Homo sapiens: one gene and its partners. The protein of the gene in region 3 purifies or fractionates together with the protein of the main gene of each other region. This does not show direct contact. Each region holds a gene or a part of one and is shown on either strand. Other genes may lie near its edges. The genes, in order: MYO6, UBE3C, ARRDC4, PPP6R3, SMC2, LRP4 and PJA2.

The links.
Region 1: the proteins of ARRDC4 (region 3) and MYO6 purify together in Homo sapiens (affinity purification with mass spectrometry; one large-scale study listed by BioGRID and IntAct). This does not show direct contact.
Region 2: the proteins of ARRDC4 (region 3) and UBE3C purify together in Homo sapiens (affinity purification with mass spectrometry; one large-scale study listed by BioGRID and IntAct). This does not show direct contact.
Region 4: the proteins of ARRDC4 (region 3) and PPP6R3 purify together in Homo sapiens (affinity purification with mass spectrometry; one large-scale study listed by BioGRID and IntAct). This does not show direct contact.
Region 5: the proteins of ARRDC4 (region 3) and SMC2 purify together in Homo sapiens (affinity purification with mass spectrometry; one large-scale study listed by BioGRID and IntAct). This does not show direct contact.
Region 6: the proteins of ARRDC4 (region 3) and LRP4 purify together in Homo sapiens (co-immunoprecipitation; one large-scale study listed by IntAct). This does not show direct contact.
Region 7: the proteins of ARRDC4 (region 3) and PJA2 purify together in Homo sapiens (affinity purification with mass spectrometry; one large-scale study listed by BioGRID and IntAct). This does not show direct contact.

Annotation. Positions count from the first base shown.
Region 1 is NC_000006.12:75,755,739-75,759,238, reverse strand, and holds part of MYO6 (unconventional myosin-VI), read right to left. Parts: intron 1-3,500. UniProt on the Homo sapiens protein: Myosins are actin-based motor molecules with ATPase activity. Unconventional myosins serve in intracellular movements. Myosin 6 is a reverse-direction motor protein that moves towards the minus-end of actin filaments.
Region 2 is NC_000007.14:157,204,926-157,208,425, reverse strand, and holds part of UBE3C (ubiquitin-protein ligase E3C), read right to left. Parts: intron 1,029-3,500; coding exon 871-1,028; intron 724-870; coding exon 491-723; intron 1-490. UniProt on the Homo sapiens protein: E3 ubiquitin-protein ligase that specifically catalyzes 'Lys-29'- and 'Lys-48'-linked polyubiquitin chains.
Region 3 is NC_000015.10:97,967,203-97,970,702, reverse strand, and holds part of ARRDC4 (arrestin domain-containing protein 4), read right to left. Parts: intron 2,690-3,500; coding exon 2,587-2,689; intron 1,581-2,586; coding exon 1,324-1,580; intron 821-1,323; coding exon 658-820; intron 115-657; coding exon 1-114. UniProt on the Homo sapiens protein: Functions as an adapter recruiting ubiquitin-protein ligases to their specific substrates. Plays a role in endocytosis of activated G protein-coupled receptors (GPCRs).
Region 4 is NC_000011.10:68,596,752-68,600,251, reverse strand, and holds part of PPP6R3 (serine/threonine-protein phosphatase 6 regulatory subunit 3), read right to left. Parts: intron 1-3,500.
Region 5 is NC_000009.12:104,128,809-104,132,308, forward strand, and holds part of SMC2 (structural maintenance of chromosomes protein 2), read left to right. Parts: intron 1-836; coding exon 837-1,037; intron 1,038-3,200; coding exon 3,201-3,317; intron 3,318-3,500. UniProt on the Homo sapiens protein: Central component of the condensin complex, a complex required for conversion of interphase chromatin into mitotic-like condense chromosomes.
Region 6 is NC_000011.10:46,912,051-46,915,550, reverse strand, and holds part of LRP4 (low-density lipoprotein receptor-related protein 4 precursor), read left to right. Parts: intron 1-3,500. UniProt on the Homo sapiens protein: Mediates SOST-dependent inhibition of bone formation. Functions as a specific facilitator of SOST-mediated inhibition of Wnt signaling.
Region 7 is NC_000005.10:109,371,975-109,375,474, forward strand, and holds part of PJA2 (E3 ubiquitin-protein ligase Praja-2), read right to left. Parts: intron 1-3,500.

The DNA of each region.
Region 1 (3,500 bases), on a different chromosome or scaffold from region 3:
CATTATCTAAAGAAATCTAAGTTTTTGAAAGTTTTTAAGATCTATAGAAATGACCGGATCTATAGAAACGGCCGGGCGCTGTGGCTCACTCCTGTAATCCCAGCACTTTGGGAGACTGAGGCGGGTGGCTCAGCTGAGGTCAGGAGTTCGAGACCAGCCTGGCCAACATGGTGAAACCCCGTCTCCACTAAAAATATAAAAATTAGCCGGGCATGGTGGCACATGCCTGTGATCCCAGCTACTCAGGAGGCTGAGACATTAGAATCGCTTGAACCTGGGAGGGGGAGATTGCAGTGAGCTGAGATCATGCCACTGCACTCCAGCGTGGGCAACAGGGTGAGACTACATCTCAAAAAAAAAAAAAGATCTATACAAACATGTATTTATACATTTTTACTATTTGTATAATCGTTAAAAATTAACAATTTTAACTAATATTAACTAATCACCTCCGAATGAAGCTAGTTAAAAAGCTGAAACAGGCCAGGCGCGGTGGCTCACGCCTGTAATCCCAACACTCTGGGAGGCCGAGTCGGGCAGATCACGAGGTCAGGAGAGCAAGACCATCCTGGCTAACACAGTGAAACCCCATCTCTACTAAATAAGAAAAATTAGCTGGGCGTGGTGGCGGGAGCCTGTAGTCCCAGCTACTTGGGAGGCTGAGGCAGGAGAATGGCGTGAACCCAGGAGGCGGAGCTTGCAGTGAGCTGAGATGGCAACACTGCACTCCAGCCTGGGTGACAGAGCGAGACTCCATCTCAAACAAACAAACAAACAAAAAGCTGAAACAGTCATTACAATCTAATTTAGGTGCGAAATTTAACACTGCATTGTCTTCTCCATACAATGCTATAAGCCCCAAATAAGCTTTAAAAAAAAGTCAATGAAGAGATTCTGGTAACATATTTCACTTCCCTCTACCACATACTGCCTGGTTAACCCAAGCAAATTGTCGTTAATCTTGTTGAAGCCCTCCCTAACCAAAAGATAAAGAAAAAGTTTAAGCTAGTAGTTCTCTAATTCCAGTTTGCACATAAATCAAAAGGGAAGCTTGCCAACATAGTGAAACCCCGTGTCTACTAAAAATACAAAAATTGGCTGGGCATGGTGGCACGTGCCTGTAGTCCCAGCTACTCGGGAAGCTGAGGCAGGAGAATTGCTTGAACCTGGGAGGCAGAAGGTGTGGTGAGCCAAGATCGCGCTACTGCACTCCAGCCTGGGCAACAGAACGAGACTCCATCTCAAAAAAAAAAAAAAAAAAAAAAAGCCAACTTCAAGATTCCAACCAAATCACTAATATATTGCTCTTCTTGCTTTTCGATGAAAATTCCACATTAAACATGACAAAAAAAAACACAGTAACAACAATAATAATGAATGTACACTATGTGCTAGCCAGTGTGATCTGTGTTTTACATGTATTATTATCTAATTCAATCCTCATAAGAACCACACCAGGTAGGTAATATTGTTACTTCCATTTTATAGATGAGAAAACTGAAGCCTAGAGAAATGAAATAATTTGACCAAGTTAATGAGTGACAAAACCAGGATTGCCTCAGGTCTGCCTATCCTCTTACCCAGGAGCTGGACAAGAAAGCACTGTGCTTAAACGCAACTCTGGAACCCCAGGGCTGTCAGAGAGAGGATTAAGCCTGACGACCAAGTAGTTAGGCAAGTAATACCCTCCCATCTCCTTCCAACCCCAATTCCCACCCCTCACCCAACAAGCTATCCTGACTCCCCACACCCATCACTCCCACACCAAGGTCGCCCACCTCTGTGATGTGTCACACATCCTAGCAGAACATCAGAAGTCTGTCTCTATGTGTGTGTGTGTATATATATGTGTATACATATATATACACACACACACACAGACTTCTGATGTTCTATATGTATATGTATATATGTTCTATATGTATATGTGTGTGTATACATACACACACATATATTGTGTATATGTCTATATACATATATACACACACATATGTATGTATGTCTATATATGTATATGTATATATGTCTATATACATATATACACAATATATGTGTGTATATATGTGTGTATATACATACACACACACAACACACATAAGTACTCTTGTATATACATATATACACATATATACACAATACATATTGCGTATACATATATATACACACTATATATGTGTGTATACATATATACACATATATACACACTATATATGTGTGTATACATATATACACACTATATATGTGTGTATACATATATACACACTATATATGTGTGTATACATATATACACATATATACACACTATATATGGTGTGTATATATATGTGTATATATATATATATATACACACACAACACACATAAGTACTCTTTCCACATTAGTATCTACTACCTGCTTAGTACTAGCAGAGACCCAAATTCCAGCACCACCAAATAAGCTTGAGCAAATTTAACATCTCTGCCCCTCAGTTTCCTAATCTGTAAAATGAAGGTCATAACACCAGCACCACTGAGGTGACACAGTGATTGAGCTAATGTATACAAAAATACTCACTTGGCATAATATCTGACATGGTAGTAAAAGCTCAATAAACAATAGCTGCTATTGGCCAGGCACAGTGGCTCATGCCTGTAATCTCAGCAGTTTGGGAGGCGAAGGCGGGCAGATCACCTGAAGTCAGAAGTTCGAGACCAGCCTGGCCAACATGGTGAAACCCCACCTCTACTACAAATACAAAAATTAGCCAGGCATGGTCGTGAGCACCTGTAATCCCGGCTACTCAGGAGGCTGAGGCAGGGGAATCGCTTGAACCCGAGAGGCGGAAGTTGCAGTGAGCCAAGATTGCACCACTGCACTCCAGCCTGGGTGACAGAGCGAGACTCCGTCTCAAAAAAAAAGAAAAAACAATAGCTGCTATTAAAATTATACTTTGCTAACCTCTTCTCTTACAACACCAACATATCAGTCCTAGTCCCATTTGTTTTTTGCTTGCTTGTTGTTTTTTTTTTTTGAGACAGAATCTGGCTATGTTGCCTAGGCTGGCCTCAAACACCTGGGCTCAAGCATTCCTCCTGCCTCAGCCGCCTGAGTAGCTAGGACTACAGGTAAGCATCACCGTGTCCAATTCTAGTTCCCATTTATTTTCTCTCAGTTTTCTTTGCTAAAAGTGTGATAAATGATGGAACATACTTATATTTATCAAAGCAGGTTGGTAACAGCGCCATAACCCAATAGTCTGGGAGTCTTCGACAGATAGGTCAGAAATATTCCAGAGCAAGTAAGTCATGCAGTAGCCTTTAAATTGCACAATTTTGACAACTGCCTATTTCCCAACTTTAGGGTCAGCCCTGTTGATTACATCCTAGTATGAAGAGTCTATAATTAACTTAATTCAAAACAACAATAAAATGTCAGTACAGGGGCTTGGTCTTAATTTAATCACTGTATCCCTAGAACTTAGAATAGTGCCTGGTCCGTGGTAGACACTACAGTACGTTTTA
Region 2 (3,500 bases), on a different chromosome or scaffold from region 3:
TAATTAATCAAAAGTACTAAAATTACTTTTCTTAATTAAAAAGGTATATAGGCCAGCTGCAGTGGCTCACGCCTATAATCCCAGCACTATGGGAGGCAGAAGCAGGAGGAATCCATGAGGCCAGGAATTTGAGACCAGCCTGGGTAACACAGTGAGACTCTGTCTCTACAAAAAAACTAATAAATTAGCTGGGTGTGGTGGCATGTGCCAGTAGCCCCAGCTACTCAGGAGGCTGAGGTGAGAGGATTGCTTGATCCCAGGAGTTCAAGGCTGCAGTGGAGTATGATGGTGTCATTGCACTCCAGCCTGGGAGACACATCAAGTCCATGTATCAAAAAAAAAAAAAAAAAAAAAAAAAAAAAAAAAAAAAGTCTTGCAAATTAAAACATGTCTGAAACAAACCTGCATTTTTATTCCTCTGCAACGAGTCAAGACAAAAGTTTGTACATTTTTCAATGTCAGTAAACAAAAAAATACATATACTCTATACCTTAAATAACTGAATCCATCTTTTCTGTTCCATCTGTATGCATTGTTGCATTTCAGAGCTAGTAGTAACTCCAATACTCTGAAATGCTGTAATATATTCTTCTCGAACTTCTGGCTTGGTTTCTGGATAAGCCAACTTGATGATCCCCAGGCATGCATCTCGAAGGCATCGAGACAACATTATCAGCTCTTCTAAAGTAAAAGGCATCATTGATGATTGTCTTTGACCTACAACTAAAAAACACAATCCAGTTTTCTATTGTTTCTTTTTCCATCTTTTAACACACACTGAAAGACTTAAAAAGCTTAAAACTTTTCTACTGTCTATGAAAACTGATGGGCCAAGTGGCCAGCAGCAAACTGGTTTCTCAAAATCCTTACCTTCTATGGGATCACCGAAGAATTCGTTATCATGTATGGAAATTAGTGAATGACTAAACAAGGAGCTAAAAAGATAAAAGAGTGGGATGATTCGACTAGAATCTTCAAAAGACATAGGAGAACCCCTGGATATCACCTGAAGCAACGGTACCATAGACCTTGAATTAAAGAAAAGAAGAAAAAAACCAGTCACTTTAAAATTAGTCTTAGTTTGGGAACTAATTAAAACATAACATCAAACAAATATAATCAGGGAAAGTAACATTTGCATTAGGAATTAAACTATTTAAAGGCAAGGTAAAGTCACCATGGCAATGCAGGTTAATAAACAGCATAGATTAATACAAAAAATAGCATACCAACCCATTAATCTTCACTAAGGTTTCTGCTACCTGTACCAACTAGATAATGAAGTTACTAAGAGTAAGCCAGTCGTTCCCAGACTAAGGCCCTAAGAAGAGCTCTAATAAGGCCACTATTCAAGACACACATGTACTTTACTCTTATGAGGAAACCATCCCCCTTCCCTTCTACTCAACATATTTAATAAAGGCAAATCATTCTGGTCTCAGGAAAAATTTATCCAGCGACTTAACTTTTGGTAACGTTGAAAGCTATTCAATATTGAAGCCAAACTGGAACCTCAAGAAACAAAGTTTCCAGTTCTCTATGGTGGCCTTGCTCCCACTGTCCACTTTATTCACCAGCTCCCATCCTGCTCCTGCTTTCACAGCAGCTAAGGTGGTCTTTACTCAGCAGCCTTTCACCCATCAAGAGCTATGATATATTAAATTAATTAGCCAGGTGTGGTGATAGGTGCCTGTAGTCCTTCCTAGTTACATAGGAGGCTGAGGCAGGAGAATGGCTTGAGCCCAGGAGGCAGAGGTTGCCATGAGCTGAGATTGCGCCACTGCACTCCAGCCTGGGGAACAGAGCCAGACTCTGTTTCAAAGAAGTTTAAAATATTAAGGAAAAAAAAAAAGAAAAGAAAAAAGGCTGGGTATGGTGGCTCACGCCTGTAATCCCAGCACTCTGGGAGGCCGAGGTGGGTGGATCACAAGGTCAAGAGTTCGAGACCAGCCTGGCCAACATGGTGAAACCCCATCTCTACTAAAGATACAAAAAATTAGCTGGGTGTGGTGGCACGTGCCTGTAATCCCAGCTACTTGGGAGGCTGAGGCAGGGGAATCACTTGAACCCGAGCAGCGGAGGTTGCAGTGAGCCGAGATCGTGCCATTGCACTCCAGCCTGGGCAACAGGGCGAGACTCCGTTTCCAAAAAAAATAAATAAATAAAAAAGAGCTACGATATATTAAATTGACTTATTTCACCTAGAACTTCTTCCTTTTCTCTCGTTTTTAAGTCTGGTTCCTTGTCTTATGGAACTTTTAGCTAATAGGCTCACCTGCAAGCTCTTTCTATAAAGTCCATGGTCCCCTCTACCAAGTCAAATCAATCACAGGTTAACAGACACTGTGAGCAAGATCACTCTCTTATCTCCCCAAATATCCATTTCCACAAAACTACAGGTATATATTAGATGAGATGTAACCAGGAGTCAGGATCTACAAATCATGTATGAAAGCAAAGCAGAAGGTAAGGCCACTTGTTCTAATTAGCGGGGCCGTAAGGAGCTTGGCTGAGCCACCTGGAGCTTCTGAGTCTCCATGGTGCATGGTTCAGGGGAGGGCACTGCCATCATCAACCGCTTTGAGAAAAGGAACCCATATGTGCACCTGAAACTGTGTTCCCACAGAGAAGATACACTATGTCCACATGCTACACAACCTGAGCATACATGATCCATGTTTGCAGTTGTGATACTCTGCATTTAGCACTATGCTGAACAGATTCATCAATGAATGAATGCCATTCTTCCAAAATTTAAACATTGTGGGACATTCAAAAAGGGACAAAGCACAATTGTCCTACCTCATTGCCAAAGCCAGGATGACACAAAAAGGTTGTTTATATGGAGGATAAAAAAGGCACAGGGCTGCCTTAACTGGACAGGGGTGGCTTCTTTCAACAGCCCTGCCTATGACAGCTGGAGCCCACTCCTGCGTCTTGATGAGCCTGCTTTCCACTGTTATCCCCGACAAGAATCCTTGTACTTGTACTGTTATCCCTGACAAGAATCATCACCACCAACACATCATCAGTTATGCACACATATTGCAGGATGCATAAAATTCTTATATTGGGTCCAAAAAAAAAAGGGACAGGGTAATTAACCAACAAAAACTTATTTGTCCTCTTCAAACCCCCTGTGAAACAAGCAAAAGGAATGCATCATTTTTACTTTAATGACAAAAACTGGGATTGGCAAGGATATGTGCCAATGCTGCCCTGCAGACAGGGCACAAACGAGACACAGGTCTCTTAGTTCTCTGCTGACCATTCTTTCTGCTATAAACACTGACTCAAATATTCCTCTGAAAACAGGTCAGTCTCAAAGACTTATGTGCAAATAAAGTCTGCAACTTACTGTAATGGAAAAGACACTGATTCACACATAACTCAGGGGAGCTAGGTGAATTACTGACCATCAGTGAGACCCGAGGCAATCCCTAACCTCTGTCTAGATCTTGAGAACAAGGGTTTTCAAATTGCGTGCCTGTGGGAACCAC
Region 3 (3,500 bases):
TACAGGCAAACACAGGACAGCACACTTCTCCCTCACAGTTAGGGGGTTGAGGGTAAGGAGGAATGTGTCTAGAGAATTCTTCCTCTGATACCACATCTGCATAATTTGGTGGTGCTGAAATAGAAATGAAGTTGGAGTTAAGAAATCCACTCAAAAATTAATCTCGATTCTTAACTGCTACAAAAACAAGAAACAGCTAAACTTGAAGATAAAAAATATGGCATTCTTTCCCTCTAATCAGCAAGGTTTTATGCATATTACAATAAAAAATAGATTCTCCTTTTATTAAACTACTACTAATAGCTTCTATTCTAGTCTCTTGAGATATAGGTAAACAAATATCACTGAAATATGACTATAGAAAAGACATAACACACCATACATTTGACTGTTTTTCATTGTTTTCCTATTACAAATAGGAATTAGGAAATGTACATCTTATTCCTGAATCTGCTATCAGCAGCTTTGCGTCCTAGATAAAGCTAAACTTTCAAAGTCCCTCCCAGGACTAATGCTTTCTGATTTTTTAGTAGTAGGAATAAAGATACCTATAGTAGCAGTACTCATCAACATCTGAGCACTTAATAGTGTATATATTCTGTTCCTAGGTATTTTCTAGGTAAAGCTTCGTTATGAAAGAACGCCAACATATTTTACCTTCAGGCTGCTCTGGCAGGGTCAGTGTCAACCAGCTCATATCCATACTGAACTGGCTGGCAATGCTGGAGTTTCTGCTGCCAAAACCATTATATGGAATTGTACCGATCACTAATGGCAGTTCGAGCATCAATTTTTTAGCACCAGGAATGTGAATGTATACCTAATAAGCCAAAAAAAAAAAAAAAAGAGAAAGGAACAAATGTAAGCTACACCTCCAGTAGGTAGCCCAATTAATTTCTTTTTTTCATAGAAACAAATGCTTTTGTCGGCTGCCACCACCCCCATCACAATTCTCAATTGTCTTGATTAAACAAAATGAAGAGTACACAAAACATAGTGAATGCTCTGTGACAGAGAACTGTGTCCTTAACATGCATCATTGTAGGTTTGCATGGCTTATATAATAATTATAGAAAATTAAGGCTATGTCTTCAATATAACAAACACCCCTTAATGCACCTCAATTCTTTTATGGCATTCTATTAAATCCCCTGTGGGGAATAGGTTTTATTAAAAACAAGGGCCAATCTTCATACAGTCCCCAATTGGTGTTAATGCTGAAATAAAATGACATTTTTATAGGCAACTCTACATACCCACAGTAACATGACATCAGTTATTGTCCATCATACACATTTTTTTTTAAAAAAGAGCTTTGCTTACAGCTAAGGAATAGTCCACTCTGATAATGCAGCAATCCAGGATGGATGGAGTAACAGGTGGGATTTTTAGCGTTTTCCCATTCCATGTGTCTGTGCTCCCAGAAGCGATGTGGTTTCCTCGCACATTGGCGACCATGTGTCGAATGGTCTTTGTTTTTCCACTAGCCAAATATGTCTGCGTTTGGAAAATAGCAGCCTTTGGAACAATCAGACGAGAGGAACAATTTTCTATTTCTGCATAGATTGGAATAGCTTCTCCTAAAAAGAAAACAAAACCAGGGAGGATTCAGAGACTCTTGAAAAAGTTCTCACCACAATGGATTAGGGCCGTATAGCTGAAATGTTCCAACATCACTTTAACAAATTGAGAAGCTTTGATGGAAAACATATTGTAAATTCAAGCCAGAGAAATAAAAATTCACTGCAGGTTGTGGTAGATCTTATTTTCTAATTATTGCATTATTGACTTTTCTAAAGTAGCAATATTGCATTAGCAATTCTAAAGATATGTAAATGACCAGTGTCTATATAAATTAGGATAAGACATACAAATAAATGATTCAGGACTATGTTAAGTATAAAAGATCACTAACAAACTCATTAGTGCTTATCAAATTAAAATCTGCCTAACAGGAGAACAAAGCCTTTGCTTTTAAGGAATTAATAATGTTAAGGCACAGAAAGAATCAACGGATGGATTAGGCAAGTTTTATAACATTATGGCTGCACATCATACCATTCCATACTGAATTCCTTTCTAACAAGTCAGAATCCTGGAGCAGGGGCCAAATCCACTGCTGGAAATGGGCCCTTCACTAATGGCAATTCCAGTAACAATCTGATTGTTAAGTTTGTTAATACACTACATTCCAGTCCCATGCATTTGCATATATCAAGCCAGCATGGAATCAGAATGTCTAATAGCATTTCATACTCCAGTAGTTCTCTTTTTAGCAATACAACCCTGGAGATTCTTTTGCAACATTAAAATCAGATGCTGGCATTTTCTCATTCCTCTAGTTATACTCTTTGTTACTAAAGTAACAGGATTGAAGTCAGAAAAAAAACAGGAGTTTGACTGGAAACAATTCCTCCTTTTAAAAATACTTAAATATCAATTATTTATATAAAAAATGTATCACTATTCATGTTTTAAAATACTATACACGTCATATAATTACAAAAAACACTATTTAAAATCACTTAAAATTAGCTAAGAAAATGAATGAAATCTTTCATTTGGACTTTCAAGCATTTTGCTTACCATTACAGTATCCCTTTCTTTCAATTTTGGCACTCAGCGAGACTGGACCAGAAGTGAAAAACCAACAGCCAACCATTTTCTCTTGAGTTTTCAATACAGGGGTCTTGAAAATTTCAAACAATAAAACAACCTTAATTAAGCCACTCTAGAGAACTCATAGAACTTAAAATTATATCTATCTTCACAGAATGGTTGTAAGGAAATACCAAAAAAATGAATCAAACTTTCTTATCCTCATGTAACATATTAGGCCAAATATGCACAAAAACACAGGGTGTTAAGACTCCCCTTTTAGGAAAACTACAGTGAATTTTCAGATTCAAAAATTAGCATGACACCATCTTATTTTACCCTGAAGTCATTATGTTTCCAGGAAATAATATACCATTTTTTTAAAAAAAAATCAAAAGCTGTATTAGGACTTATAAACATGACAGAATTATTTTTAAGACTTTATATATAAAAGTCAGGTGGAAGGATAAATGATATAAAAATAAAAAATAATCAGAACATTATATTTATTTTGGCATTTAATAAAGTGGAATAAACAAACAGCCTTTTCCCACCACTTACTTCAAAATGCATTATCAAGCAGAAATTTCATGTGTTCTTAATTTGGAGTGGTTTTGGGGTTTTGTGTAATAGTGCAATAACATGTGTAGTGTTAACCGATCTGAAAAGCTTATTAAACATACCCTCTCACTGCAGTATTCTATTCTATAGTGGCAAGAGAAGTTACTACAAGATTTACAATGTTCAGTTTACGAGTTACACACACCAAAGCTTTCTGTAAAACCCAGTTACTTGCAATATTTTTTTTTTATTTATATAAAGAATCGTAAGGGATCAACAGTGTCTGTTTTTGGCAAAGACAAATCCCTTTAAATCAATTCCCACAATGGTCATAAAAACTT
Region 4 (3,500 bases), on a different chromosome or scaffold from region 3:
ACTGGAGCTGTGGGAGAAAGACACTCTCACCAATGAGGGCAGGAGCGGACAGGGCACAGCCACCTGGAGGGCACTCTAACAATGATCCCACATTCTCAAACCTCCCATTTCTTTTTATTATTATTTTTTTGAGATGGAGTCTCGCTCTGTCGCCCAGGCTGGAGTGCAGTGGCACGATCTCCGCTCACTGCAAGCTCCGCCTCCCGGGTTCACGCCATTCTCCTGCCTCAGCCTCCTGAGTAGCTGGGATTACTGGCACCCGCCATCACGCCTGGCTAATTTTTTGTATTTTTAGTAGAGACAGGTTTCACTGTGTTAGCCAGGATGGTCTCAATATCCCGACCTCGTGAACCGCCCGCCTTGGCCTCCCAAAGTGCTGGGATTACAGGCGTGAGCCACCGCGCCTGGCCTCAAACCTCCCATTTCTAACAACTGTTCCAAAAGAAATACTACACAGAGATTCAAAGCTACATGCACAAAGAGGGATTAATGTTAATTTCTTAGTTTTGACAAATGTACCATGGCTGTATTCATACTTGGGGAAGCTAAGTGAAGGATATATGGAGACTTACTATCTTGGCAATGTTTCTATAAATCTAAATTATTCAAAAGTAAAAAGGTTATTTTTCTAAAAAAAGAACATGTTGATTATTCAACTCCAATAAACTAGAAATAACCTTAATGCTTCCCAGTCCGGGTCTGACTGCACTTCGCCCATTCTGCGGGCTCCCTGCAGTGCACTGCAGTTAGGCTTCCTAAGTCCTGCAGAACCAGGTCTGGCCTCAGAGGCTGAAGCGGCAGGACTTGCTTGAGCACACTTACGGTCTGTGGGGCTCTTCTTACTATGCTGCCTGCTGGCCAAGTTTGGGTCTAATCTGCAGGTCTCTCCTTAAATGTCACCTCCTCAGACATGTGTCCCTTCTGATGAAGTCAGGTCACTGTGGATCTGCTCTAACTGCACACCATGCTTTTCCTTCACAGAGTGCTGAATCCTCAATTCTTTGCTGGGGACAAGCCAGATGTGGGAACCACTGCATTCCATCAGGGATATTATCATAATTAGGAATCTCTAGGTTGCAGGAAGGAATGCTAGGGAAACTGGTATAAGTTATTTAAGGGCTTAACCCAGACACAAGTGACTAAGATTAAGAAGTACCCGTGTAGAATAGAAATGTTCTGAGTTTAAAGACAGACTTGACTGTGACTTTCCCCAAGATATCTGACTTCATCTGTTTGATTTCATAATGACTATTCACTTAGCAAAGATCACAGGAGGGCCTGCACAGAGTAGGCATTTAATTAGGGTGCGCTCCATGCTTCTTGCCCACCTACCTGTGTGAGTGTCACAGGGCTCCACTGACACCAAGAAGGAATAAATGCTTGAATGTTTGAAAATCTCACCTGAAACCTCCAAAAAGTCAACTTGACAGTTATTTTTGCCTGCCCACTCTATGCAAAGCTCTGGAATCATTCTATCTGAGTTCTACTCTACAACTAAATTATATTACACACAAATGACTTTTCTGTTATCTCTTTGAGATAGTCTTTCCCAGATGAGCTCCTCAGAGTCCGTGTAACATTTTAAATGATTCTGAATGTCCACAAAACCTCCAACAGAAGCCACAGAGACTGGTGGAATGGCAGAGGCTCTCTGGGGCAACCCTGTAGCCCTGAAGCCCTGAGAGAGAATCTTCCCCAACCCTACCCACTTGTGTCTCCAGAGATCTGAAGATGCAAAAGCTGTCTTTCCCAAGGAACAGAGAAGCAGGAGGCCTGGTTCCCTGCCACACTTAACCCCGGGAGGTAGGTAAACGCGAACCTCATCCAGGGTGCTCGCCTCCTCGCTGCTTATCCCTACACCCAGGCCCACAGTCACAGCAGCAGCGGCACGCAGTCCAGCCAAGTGTGTTTCCCTCCCTGTCACTTAACCATACCCAGCCTGCTAAAAGAACCAAAGATTCCAGAATGTCATTCGGCCTTCGAACAAAAGGAAATCCTGTATACACCACAGCAGGGATGAACTCTGAAGACATTATGCTAAGGGAAACAAGCCAGTCACAAAGATAAATACTGTATGATTCCATTTATATGAGATCCCTAGACTAGTCAACCCCAGAGAAACAGAGAGTAGAATGGAGGCTGCTAGGGACTGGGGAAGTAGAAATGAGGAATTGTTTAATGGGTACAGAGTTTTAGTTTAGGATGAAAAAGTTTTAAAGACCTGTTACACAACAGTGTGAATATACTACTGAACTGTACTTTTTTTTTTTCCCCAGATGGAGTCTCACTCTGTCGCCCAGGCTGGAGTGCACAGCATGATCTTGGCTCACTGTAAGCTCCATCTCCCAGGTTCAAGCGATTCTCCTGCTTCAGCCTCCCGAGTAGCTGGGACTATGGGTGTATGCCACCATGCCCAGCTTTTTTTTTTTTTTTTCAGTAGAGACAGGGTTTCACCCTGTTGGCCAGGGTGGTCTCGAACTCCTGGCCTCAAGTGATCCGCCTGACTCGGCCTCCAGAAAGTGCTGGGATTACAGGCCTGAGCCACTGCACCCAACCTTGAACTGTACATTAAAAAAACCAACAACAACAACAACAAACCCTACAGATTCCAGAGCCAACAGATCAGGGCATCTGCCCTGTCTCCTCCTCACACCTCCCTGCTGCCTGGAGCCCATCTTGCAGTTCTCATTATTTCTCATGTGTAACAGTTCAATGTCTTCATGGTTCTCCTGTCTCTACCATGCGTTTTCTCGTCCATTTTTCACTGTTGCCATGAATGTCTTGAAACAGAACCAATAATGATCTTCTTAGTCAAATCCTCAAGGGCTCCCTACAACCTTCAGAATACAACTCCTGATCTGGCCTCTGGCCTTCGCTCCCGCCACCTCATCCCCGAGCCATGCAAAACAGCACGTTCTGGGCATTTGGATTAGCTGTTTTCTCTCTCGCACGGGCAAATCCCTACGGGTCCTTCAGCCTCATACCCACCTGCCTCTACAAAGAGGCCTAATGGAAGGCTCCCCTCTTCTAGCACCCTGTACCCATTCCCCTGCACTGCCCATCTGCTTCCCCAGCCGACCCCAAGCCCCTGGAGGCAGAGTCTGTGGCCCGTTCACAGTTACAGGCCTAACACCTGGCATACAGTAGGAACTTGACAAAGGCATGTTGACTGAAACTGAATTACGGACAGAAAAGTCCACTTCCTCCTCCTGAGGGTGGGCTGGAAAACAGGCAGCAGAAAGAAGATCTCTCTTCTTCTCCCATCCCGTTTCCTTATCTGCAACATGTGGCAGTTTGCTGGATGACTGATCTGGTCCCATCTAGCTCTGAAGTCACCACAAGGTCCACCCTAGCTGGGCTTCAGCCTCTGGGATGAACATAAAAAAGGCCTTGCAGGGCAATCAGAGACTGGCCAGGCTTGGGGCAAGCCTCGCTATCAGCCCATATGGCTCCTTCACATGAACGTTTGTTTCCCAAACCTTTAGAAGTTTTTGAAGTAT
Region 5 (3,500 bases), on a different chromosome or scaffold from region 3:
TGTGCCTTTTTCAAAAGGTGGGGAGCAGGATAGAGTCAATGTTTAGGGCAGTTTCTTAGAATATATTTCTGAGAGAAAAATTATTAGGTCTCAGTCAGCATTAGGCTTCCATGATTTTTACCAAATCTATGACTTAAGTATTAAAAGAGTTTTAGCTTCTCATAAGTTGTGTTTTGAAGCAATAGATTGAATTTGGTAAATTCTGAAGGAGTTCTACCTGACTTACATTTCATTCTAATGGAGGTGCTTTGCGTATACTTCGTAAAAATTTCTCTGTGAGTTGGCTCTTCTAATGCCAAAGTAATAGGAAGATCTTTTGCTATACAGTGTCTTGTTTCTGTAGTCTGTGTTCCAGGTAAAAATATTCATCTTTATTCTTGTCAGTAATGAAACTCATTTTTAAAAATGAGTCGCCTAGGCACGGTGGCTCACGCCTGTAATCCCAGCACTTTGGGAGGCCGAGGTTGGCAGATCACCTGAGGTCGGGAGTTCCAGATCAGCCTGACCAACATGGAGAAACCCCGTCTCTACTAAAAATACAAAATTAGCTGGGCGTGGTGGTACATACCTGTGATCCCAGTTACTCAGGAGGCTGAGGCAGCAGAATCACTTGAACCTGGGAGGTGTAAGTTGCGGTCAGCCAAGATCGCGCCATTGCACTCCAGCTTGGGCAACAAGAGTGAAACTCCATCTCAAAAAAAAAAAAAAAATTAGTCATTGAAGGTTTTTTCCTCTTCAGTATTTGATTCAAAAGTATTAAATAGTTAAGAAACTGGCTTATACATATTGGTTTGTAAACATTCATAGATCTCCCATCTATTTTTATATGTGGCTAGGTATCCAAAATGTTGAAAGATTATGACTGGATTAATGCAGAGAGACACCTCTTTGGCCAACCCAATAGTGCCTATGATTTCAAAACTAACAACCCTAAAGAAGCTGGTCAGAGACTTCAGAAGTTGCAAGAAATGAAGGAGAAACTAGGAAGAAATGTCAATATGAGAGCTATGAATGTATTGACAGAAGCTGAAGAGCGAGTAAGTCAATTTCTTATGAATATCTGGCCGCATTAGAACATGACTAGCATTGACAGCTCTGTATGACCTCTGATGCAATTATTAGAGTTAACCTTTTGCAGATGTCCTTGATACTTTTCTTTCTGCTTTCCTTTTTCTCTTTTCGTCATTTTTTTCTTATTACTCTTATGCATCATTAGTTGTTTTTACATTCTATTACACCTGGAATGACTTTTTCACTGGCTTTTGTTCTTTGTCAAACATAATTCCTCACATTTCTATCATTTCATTTCTTTCACTTGCATTGAAAAGCCTTGAATAGGATATACTTCTGTCATCCTCTTGACTCTACTGTATACTGAAACTATATAAGTAATGACTAAAGCCATTATACACATAAATACTGTTTCACTGATCTGTAAATTCTGCAGCCTCTTCTCAGTTTTAATGCTCTCAATTACTCAATAATGTTATTCTTCCCTAACCTGACAAAACTTTGAGTCTGGGAAGGGAGTTTACTGTCATCTAGTGATGAACTTGGGAGGACCTATCACTAGAAAAACCCAGTGGGGGAAGCATTCCCTACTCTTAAGATAGCCATAAGAAATGGCTATCTTAGTAATTTTATATTAATGCCCCTATTAATGCCCCATACCTTCCTGAATGCTGGAAAATTCTGTTTGAATTTGCAAATCAGAGTAAAATTCATGAGAAATCTGCGACACTGATAATAGCACAGTTACTTTGAAGAAATTTTACCATAATTTTTTTTAACTGTTTTTGGCATGAATATGCACAAAGAGTCTATATTATATTAGATACCAAACAGATGAATCATGCAGGTATTGTGATCTCTCTAGAAAATGCTCCTGCTGGTTTTCATTTCTACATTAAAGCTTTGCAATATGTGATATATTTGTAGAAGGAAAACTTTGGTCTGAATTTGATCTGCATAACATGAAACTTGTTCACTTTTACTCGTTTACTTCTATTAGATGAGACCTGAGTCTAATATTTTTTTCAAAAGAATTTATCAACTCCCATCTCTTTACCAGAGGAGAAGCCTATATTGTTGATCAGCAGATGGCCTTTTTTTTTCTTGTGTTTTGTATCTATCTACATAAGCAATTACATGGATTTTCATGAAAAAATAAGATAAAAATGTAGAGAGAAGGTTAGGGGAGCGTGGCTGTAAAGAAGAGGGACAGCAAGGAAAACAGCAGGACTGACTAGAATTGTTAAAGGTGAATGTGAAGCCTCCTTGAAATGTAGGGCTTTGAGGAGAAATGAATTAGGAAGAGTTTTAGGAAGTCCCATTGCTGTTCATGGTATGATTATCCCTCTACAGCCTTGCTTGAAGGAAGACTACTCTAAAGTGGTGATATTTGAGCTGAAATTTCAGGCAACCGTTATGTCAGAGAAAGAGCATTCCAGGAAGGGAGAATAGTGCAGGGGCCATAAGACAATAGTGAGTTTATTATGTTCAAAGGAGCTGTAAAAGACCATATGGCCAGAACCTGGGGAGGAGTTTAATGCCATAAAGTCAAGGGATAAATAAGGTCCAATTCCCTTTATCCTGATGCATACAGGGCTTAAAACCTGGTTGATTGGTGCAGCAAGCCATCATGGCACATGTATACCTATGTAACAAACCTGCACATTCTGCACATGTATCCCAAAACTTAAAATTAAAAAAAAGTAAGGTCCAATTTATGTGGTTCCTATATATCATGGTGAAGGATCAAAATTTTGTTCATGTCACTGCTAAGGCTGACCTTAAGAGGAGAGCTTTCAGGGCTCCTTTTACTTAAGTTTATATGTAACACTTTTTTTTTTTTTTTTTGCCTTGGCTGCTAAGGAGATAAGGGAATATTAGTGGAGTCAAAATATTTTAAGGACTTTGTCTTATAAATTCTTAGTTCTAGTAATTTAGTTATATACATATGGATGATTTTATTCCTAATTTTGTTAAGAGTGTGTATATGAGTGTGTATATACACACACATCATACAGTATATGTATAGTATATGAGTATATATAATTCTTAGTGCATTATATCTTTTTGGTAAATAGCAATGTATGTATTGTATATAAAAATAATGAAAACTGTTTATTTCTGACCAAATTCCAGAATATAGAAGAGATTTTATATTTTCCCAGTTAACCATGTTTTTTATCTCATAGTACAATGACTTGATGAAGAAGAAGAGAATTGTAGAAAATGACAAATCCAAAATTCTTACAACTATAGAAGACCTTGACCAGAAGAAAAACCAAGCCCTAAATATTGCATGGCAAAAGGTACTTTTTATGTTTGTTTTATATGAGGTTGCAAGGATGAAAAAATATCATCAGTGGAGTTATACTCTATAAGAAATTTGAAATAGCTGATCTATGTTTGAATGAGGCACATATTCACACCTTAATTAAAACCTCTGACTTTTAAATGCATTTTTTTCTTTTTGAACTTGACTACTACCAGAT
Region 6 (3,500 bases), on a different chromosome or scaffold from region 3:
AAAGTTTAAGGTGCTTATTTGGATGCTGCTAGTCCTTGGGGCTTTTCCTAGAGCCTATTGGTTTGGACTCAGCCCACATAACTCTCCAACCTTAAAGATTTTGGAAGGAAACTTGATGGCTGGTAATAGCCCTGAGTGATTTTCATCCTGAAGTTTGAAGTAAGGGCATGGATGACAACCATTGGAAGAGTGGAAAGTGTGTTTGTTCTAGAGGTCTCATCCAGGTAAGGGAAATGTTAAAACTTCTGCCTAGGCGTGCTTGGGTAGATAGAAGGTTGTATCTGAAAATAAGTGCAGAGCAATTGAGCTGAGACTGGTCTCCTTTCCATCTCGCTGTTGTCGTGACCAGGGTTGTCATGGTGCTTGAGTGACCTTGTCCCTGATCTGTTGGGCTTGTGAAACATACTTGGCTTGTCACTGATTTTGGATTTCCTCTTCTGTACCCTGATGAATATCAGATAACATCTTTTGGACTGGCACGTGGTATTAAGAATGACAGGTGCAAGGGAACCAAGTCTGGCCATGTCTGATACAGAGCACGTTGGGTATGTCCATCTTCTGGGCCAGCAAAGAACACAGGAGGTCACAGAGGACACGGTGTTTTATAGCTCTTTGCTCACTCTTTCTACCGATTAACTGCCAGTCTTAACTGTTAGAAGGAAAATAGGAGAAATTGTTTATGTTGCTGCCCCTTTAAAGAAAAAAAAAATACTGGGGGTTCCTGAATAGGAACAGAATTTCAGGGACTACTTTAAGAAGTAATCTTGTCTTTTTTATGATTGGGTAAGATTACGAGACAGTCTGTGCCCTTGGTTGACTAGGTCTGTTAGCCTGTTCCAGCCATGGTCTCTCTACATTCCTTGATGCAGCTTAGCCACGAGTTTTGTCACAGTTGCCTGGACATGGGGCATCTGGGCCCCAGACTGTGTCTGGACTGCCATCTCATCTTCAGCAGCGGAAGCCCTCCTCCCCTCCTCAGCCTGTGAGGATTCAGTGTCCCAGGGAAGACTCAGTGCTGACTGGTTAGCTGGCAGAGCCTGAGTTTGACCTTATAAATAGTTCTGATGACTGCATGGGCTTGTCACTCTCACTCCAGCTTAGAGCTGGCAGGAATGAGTTCCTCGTACAATCGGGAGCATTCCTCAAACTAGGCTCCACACCCATTCACTTGTTCATTCATTCAGCAAACACACATATGTCAAGCATTAATATAATCACTGTATACGAAGCTCAGCAATTAAGAAGCACCCACAGACCTGGGTTTGAATCTTGGCTCTGGCAATTCTTGGTGACCCTGTGCAAAATCTCCCTGAACCTCAGGGTTGTTACCTGCAAAGGCGGGTAGGGTAGGGGAAGGGAAGTAGTAATAGATTATCACATAGGAATATCATAAAATTTACCTGAGATAATAGCATGTTCAAACTATGCAGCACAGAGCTTGGCAACTACTGTGTTACTGTAGAGCTTGATAAAAGTTAGCTGTAAGCAAAGTCACCTAAGTGGATCCGAGATGATTCTTGGCTTTAGAACATGGGAGCCAGGTAAATAATTATGCTACCGTGTTCTGTGCTAAAATTGAGACTTGGTCCTTCATTCATTGCAGCTGGTCTTTTGCTTGTCTCTTTTAAAGATCTGCCCCTTCTTTCTCCCCTTGAAAACGTGATAGAACCGAAGCATAGTTCCCACTTGTGCCCACTCCTAGAAAAGAAGTCTGCTAAGCTATAACATCAGTCTAGGGGAACTCATGTCGCCTTAGTTCTCTTGAGAGAGGTCTGGGGAAATGGAGCTTTTCCTCTGAGAGTTTCCCTTCTTAAGTGGTCAGGGATGCAGCCTAGCAACTTCTCCTGCTAAGATTCCTGTGACATGGGGTGAGAGGGGCTGGCCAGGGACTCTTGTAGCTGGAACAGTTTAGAATTCCAAGCCCTCCCTCCCATTGGCCTGAGAAAGGAGTCAGGCTCCAGAGCTCATAAGGTAGTAATTGCCCCAATTTGGGAGCTGGGCTGTTGTGGAGCCTTCGCAGCTACCATTTTCAATCAGGAAGCCTGTCAGCTTGCAGGCCTAATTGATGTGGGTCTCCAGCCCCGAATAGCCCCCAACCCCTAGTTCCTCCACCTCAAAGTTTGACCCCTGTTGTCTCTTTTGTTTCTTCTTTTTAAGTTGGTGCCAGTGATGTGATTTTTGGGAGCTGCGGAAAGTTGACCGTAACCAAGAGCAGCTGTTAAAAAGAGCCAATTCTCTAGCTTCCTGACGGTTGTCTGCCTCCATTTTCTGTTGTGCGTTTTTGATTTAGCAAGAAGCAAACATCCTAGGTGCCCTTGGGCGCCTCTTACGCCCATCCAAGCAGACTTCATTCTTTCACTGCTCGTAGGCATTCCCATTCTTGCTCACAGATGAGCGGACTGGCTGTTAGCGCTCCCTGACACCCTGTTTCCCCATGCGGAATAGGACTCCCCCATCATTCAGGTTCGAATGAGGGGAGGGGCGCTGTCTGGGACCCAACTGGGGATAGCCTGGCTGGGACTTGCTGCAAGCCCTGACTTGGCCTATGGGAGCTCCCCCTCACCTCTATGCACAGCTGAGGATCAGAGCGGCAAGCAGAGCCGGAAACAAAAGACTGGGAGCAAACCTCCCATCTAGCTGAGAGGCAGTGACACAGAGGTGCTGCTGCATAATTTATCACCGGAGGTTTTCTGGAGCCGGGAAGCTCCTGGCTCCAGGCAGTGCCTTTTTGCGGGAGAGGGACCCTCCCTCTGTCTGGGTGTAGGGCAGAGCAGGTACAGAGAAGGGTATCCAGAGAGACACCTGATTAGCATGTGAAATAAAGAAGCTGCAAGGTTGTAAGTGCCTCCAGGGATCTCTCCAAGCTCGGCAGCTCCACTTCCTGTCACGCCTTGGGGGAGGTGGGGAGGGGTAGTGGCCTGCAACCACGCGCTGGCATGGATGAGGACAAGAGACAGCTTCTCTGTTGAGTTGACTGTAGCCTCCTTCTAACCAAGTGGAGAGGCCAGGTTATGGCATCCACAAGCCTAGCAAATAGGAAAGGGGAGCCCCAGGTTTTCCACCCTCCTTCCACGGGCAGTTTAAACAATAAGTTTCAACTACAGGCTCCCAGAGCCAATAAAAGCCAACAACTCTACAATGTATCTTCCCCAAATGAGAATTTCTGCTCTTCTAGGAATGATCTCCTCCAATGACAATTTTTGCAAATTGTGGGATATGTGGATTTACAAATTGGGATATGTGGTTTAAAAAATCCAAATGTATTTCTGGAGCAGTTAGCATTTTTGAGAGCTTTGCTGTGTCCCTGGTACTGTGATAAGCATTTAGTATATGATATCATATTTATTCCTCACAATATCCTTATGAGGTAGGTAACATTAGATTCCCGTCTTACATTGGCCAGGTGCGATGGCTAACGCCTGTAATCCCAGCACTTTGGGAGGCTGGGGTGGGTGGATCACTTGACGTCAGGAGTTCGAGACCAACCTGGCCAACATGGT
Region 7 (3,500 bases), on a different chromosome or scaffold from region 3:
TAAAACATTTTCACAATGCCTGATAAATAATGAGCCATCAATAACTGTTAGCGAGTCTTTTTTTAACATTTTTTTAAACTCAAATACATTTAGTTAGGATAAGCAATAGCCATTAAGTCCTGAATTTGATGTGCTACCTATATTTTCTTAATTTCCATTAACATAAATACATAATGATTAAATTAAAAACATTGTGTACCACTTAATATATTTTACCCACTTTGGAAATAGTGACCTATAGAATAAAAAGTTAAATGTCTTTGAATAACACTTATAATTTACTGCTATCTGATCCCAGTACTTTCTTGCATCCAACTCAAGAATGCTCTATTTCAAACAGTGTCCTCAAAGTGGGCATTCTTGCCATCAGGAATATCTTTATAATCACTTCACCTTTTCCCCACTTCCAAACACAGATCAGACTCTATTTCTTTCAAGACCTTCCTGTATAAAATCGCTTCTTTTGTTTTTCAATTATTTCATGAACTAGACTTCTTGTTTACTCAGTGCAGCTCACTACAACACAGCTGCTTCTTTAACATTGCAATTATTTTTCATAATAGTGCAGAGAAATCAAAGAAAATGGGTACTGAGAAAAGACAAATGGATGTGGAAATCAGGAGGTCACCACTGACATTAAAGAATATAGGGCCGGGTGCAGTGGCTCATGCCTGTAATCCCAGCACTTTGGGAGGTTGAGGCAGGTGAATCACCTGAGGTCGGGAGCTCGAGACCAGCCTAAGCAACATGGAGAAAACTGGTCTCTACTAAAAATACAAAATTAGCTGGGTGTGGTGGCGCATGCCTGTAATCCCAGCTACTCAGGAGGCTGAGGCAGGAGAATCGCTTGAACCTGGGAGGTGGAGGTTGTGGTGAGCCAAGATGGTACCATTGCACTCCAGCCTTGGCAACTAGAGCAACACTCCGTCTCAAAAAAAAAAAAAAAAAAAAAGAAAGAAAGAAAAAAAAATTAGCCAGGCATGGTGGTGCACACCTGTAGTCCCAGCTACTCAGGAGGCTGAGGCAGGAGAATTGCTTGAACCCAGGAGGTGGAGGTTGCAGTGAGCTGAGATTGCACCGCTGCACTCCAGCCTAGGTGACAAAGCGAGACTGTCTCAATAAAAAAGAATACAGAAATAATATTAGGAATTAGATTTCAAGGCAGTAAGAAGAGTGGATAGTGACAGAATAGAGACAGTGGGTATGGAAAACTTTTTCTTAAAATTCAGCAGTAGAAAAGAAAACACAAACAGGCAAATAACAGAGCAAGAAAAAGTAAAGGTTTTCTTCAAGATTGAGAAAAACTCAAGGTTGAGAGACAGAGGGAAGCAACCTGTGAGTAAGGACAATTAGATGAAGTGTCAGAAATAACTAGAGGCACAGAATGAGAGGGGCTACCTCTCTTCATTGAAGAGGAAATTAAAAATACAAATAAATACTACTATCCCCTAATATGGAGAAGAGGAAAATAAGAAAATTCACATTTACATATTTTTAACTTCTACAGGAAAATAAGAAACGAAGCTAACCATTAGGAGTGACAGGAGTACATGGAAGGAAAAAAGGGAAAAGATTTAAAAATCACTTTTTAAGGAGTAAGCAACAGAACAAATAGGACACAAAAATGATCATGGAACAGTGAAGATCCATTTGTTCTAGATTTTAAAAGCGGGTGAATGACACATTTAAAAGTTCTCAAAGTAAAAACTAAATTAAGTACTACTTTGATCTTCATATGATCCTTCACTGGTACTGATCCCTTTTAGCACCTAAGAGTTGTATTTAAAAAGCAGACAACTATAATTTACTCAAATGTTACACTCTACACATTCAATTGTGAACTAAAAAAACTTGATATACAGAATGAAATTATAGACAAAATTTATGTACAAATCCTAGGCAGAAATAAGCTATGGAAACATAAAACCAACCAAAAGTAATCTCTCATTCCATAATTCCCCAAGGTACTTGTTACTTTGTTCTTCCTGGCATTTATCACAGCCACAAGAAACTCAACTACAGGAGCCTAGGAAAAAGTGAAATTTTAAATATTTTGTTATCTGACATAATCTAAACATTCTGGAACTTTTTACCACTATTAACACTGAACTGTAATGTAATACAGTGATATGAATGGATTATGTCCAAATATATAAGTCTGCTTAATTTCATTAAGATGGCTATGATTTTTGCATTGTGCCTGCTTTTTGTCACTTTCTGGTCTTTTTCCTTAGTATCAGGTTATTGTAATCCCATGAACTCCCTAGCATATCTGCAGAACAAACACATTTATACCTAATGTGCTCCTTCCAAACTTCTATGAACTTGAAAACAAGATAAAAAGGTTTGCTAAAATGTCAGCACATATGCTTTAAGATCTGTGCCTTGGCTGCATATAGATGTTTTATTTGTTGGGGGTAGTACCAAGTTCTCAGACAAACTCTTTCTTTGTGGCTCTCAGGTAACCTACACGGAACAGGAAAGGCGCTTAATTCAGCCTCACAATAATAAATACGTATATTTTGTCTTCTTCATAAAGCTAGTGAACCTTGTGGGAACAGGGACCATTATGATTTGTATTAACAGGGCACCTGGAACAAAGTCTGGCACTTAAGATTTCAACAAATCCTTTAATATATCATATTGAAGTCAACTAAATGGCTAACAATCATTTTATTTCCCAACATCATCAACAAAGTAAGTTGTCCCAACATTTTACCTTAAGTAAGGTTTTTAAATTTTAAGCAAAGTTAAGTCCTAAGGCCACAAAAATTCTGCAAGAAACCTCAAATGCTATAAGTAAGGAACAGACAGTAGATGGCATGCCTCTCTTCAGAGCAGTTAGGCCCAAGGTTAAGATATGCTAGTATTGCTGAAAGGTTTTTTTTAAACTCAAGATCTTGTCCTCAAACAGTTACTAAACTTCTCAGGGTATATTTCAAAAGAGCAGGGTATTAACCTTAGCTCTTTGGTCTAATTCTAAGTCTGGTAATTATATGCTGCCTATTAAAATTCCCCTTGGAATCCTAATTTAATAAGGTGGTGCTCAGTACCTGTCAAACAGCTCAGAGCAATGCTACTGGCTGCAATGTTTATCCCACAGAGTGTAACATTTCAGATGTGATTAAATGATCATTTAGAATTTTTCAGGGAAGAAGGCAATCATGAATTCATTAAAATACTTTTCTACTTAAAAAGAATATATAATTCATATTTTTAAAAAGTAGCCAAAATTCCTATATCTAAAAATGCTGGCCGGGTGCAGTGGCTCACGCCTGTAATCTTGACACTCTGGGAGGCTGAGGCGGGTGGATCACTTGAGGTCACAGGTTCAAGACCAGCATGACCAACATGGTGAAACCCCATCTCTACTAAAAATACAAAAATTAGCTGGGCATGATGGCATGCCTGTGGTCCCAGTTATTCAGAAGGCTGAGGCAGAAGAATCACTTGAACCTAGGAGGCAGAGGTTGCAGCGAGCCGAGATCACGCCACTGCAC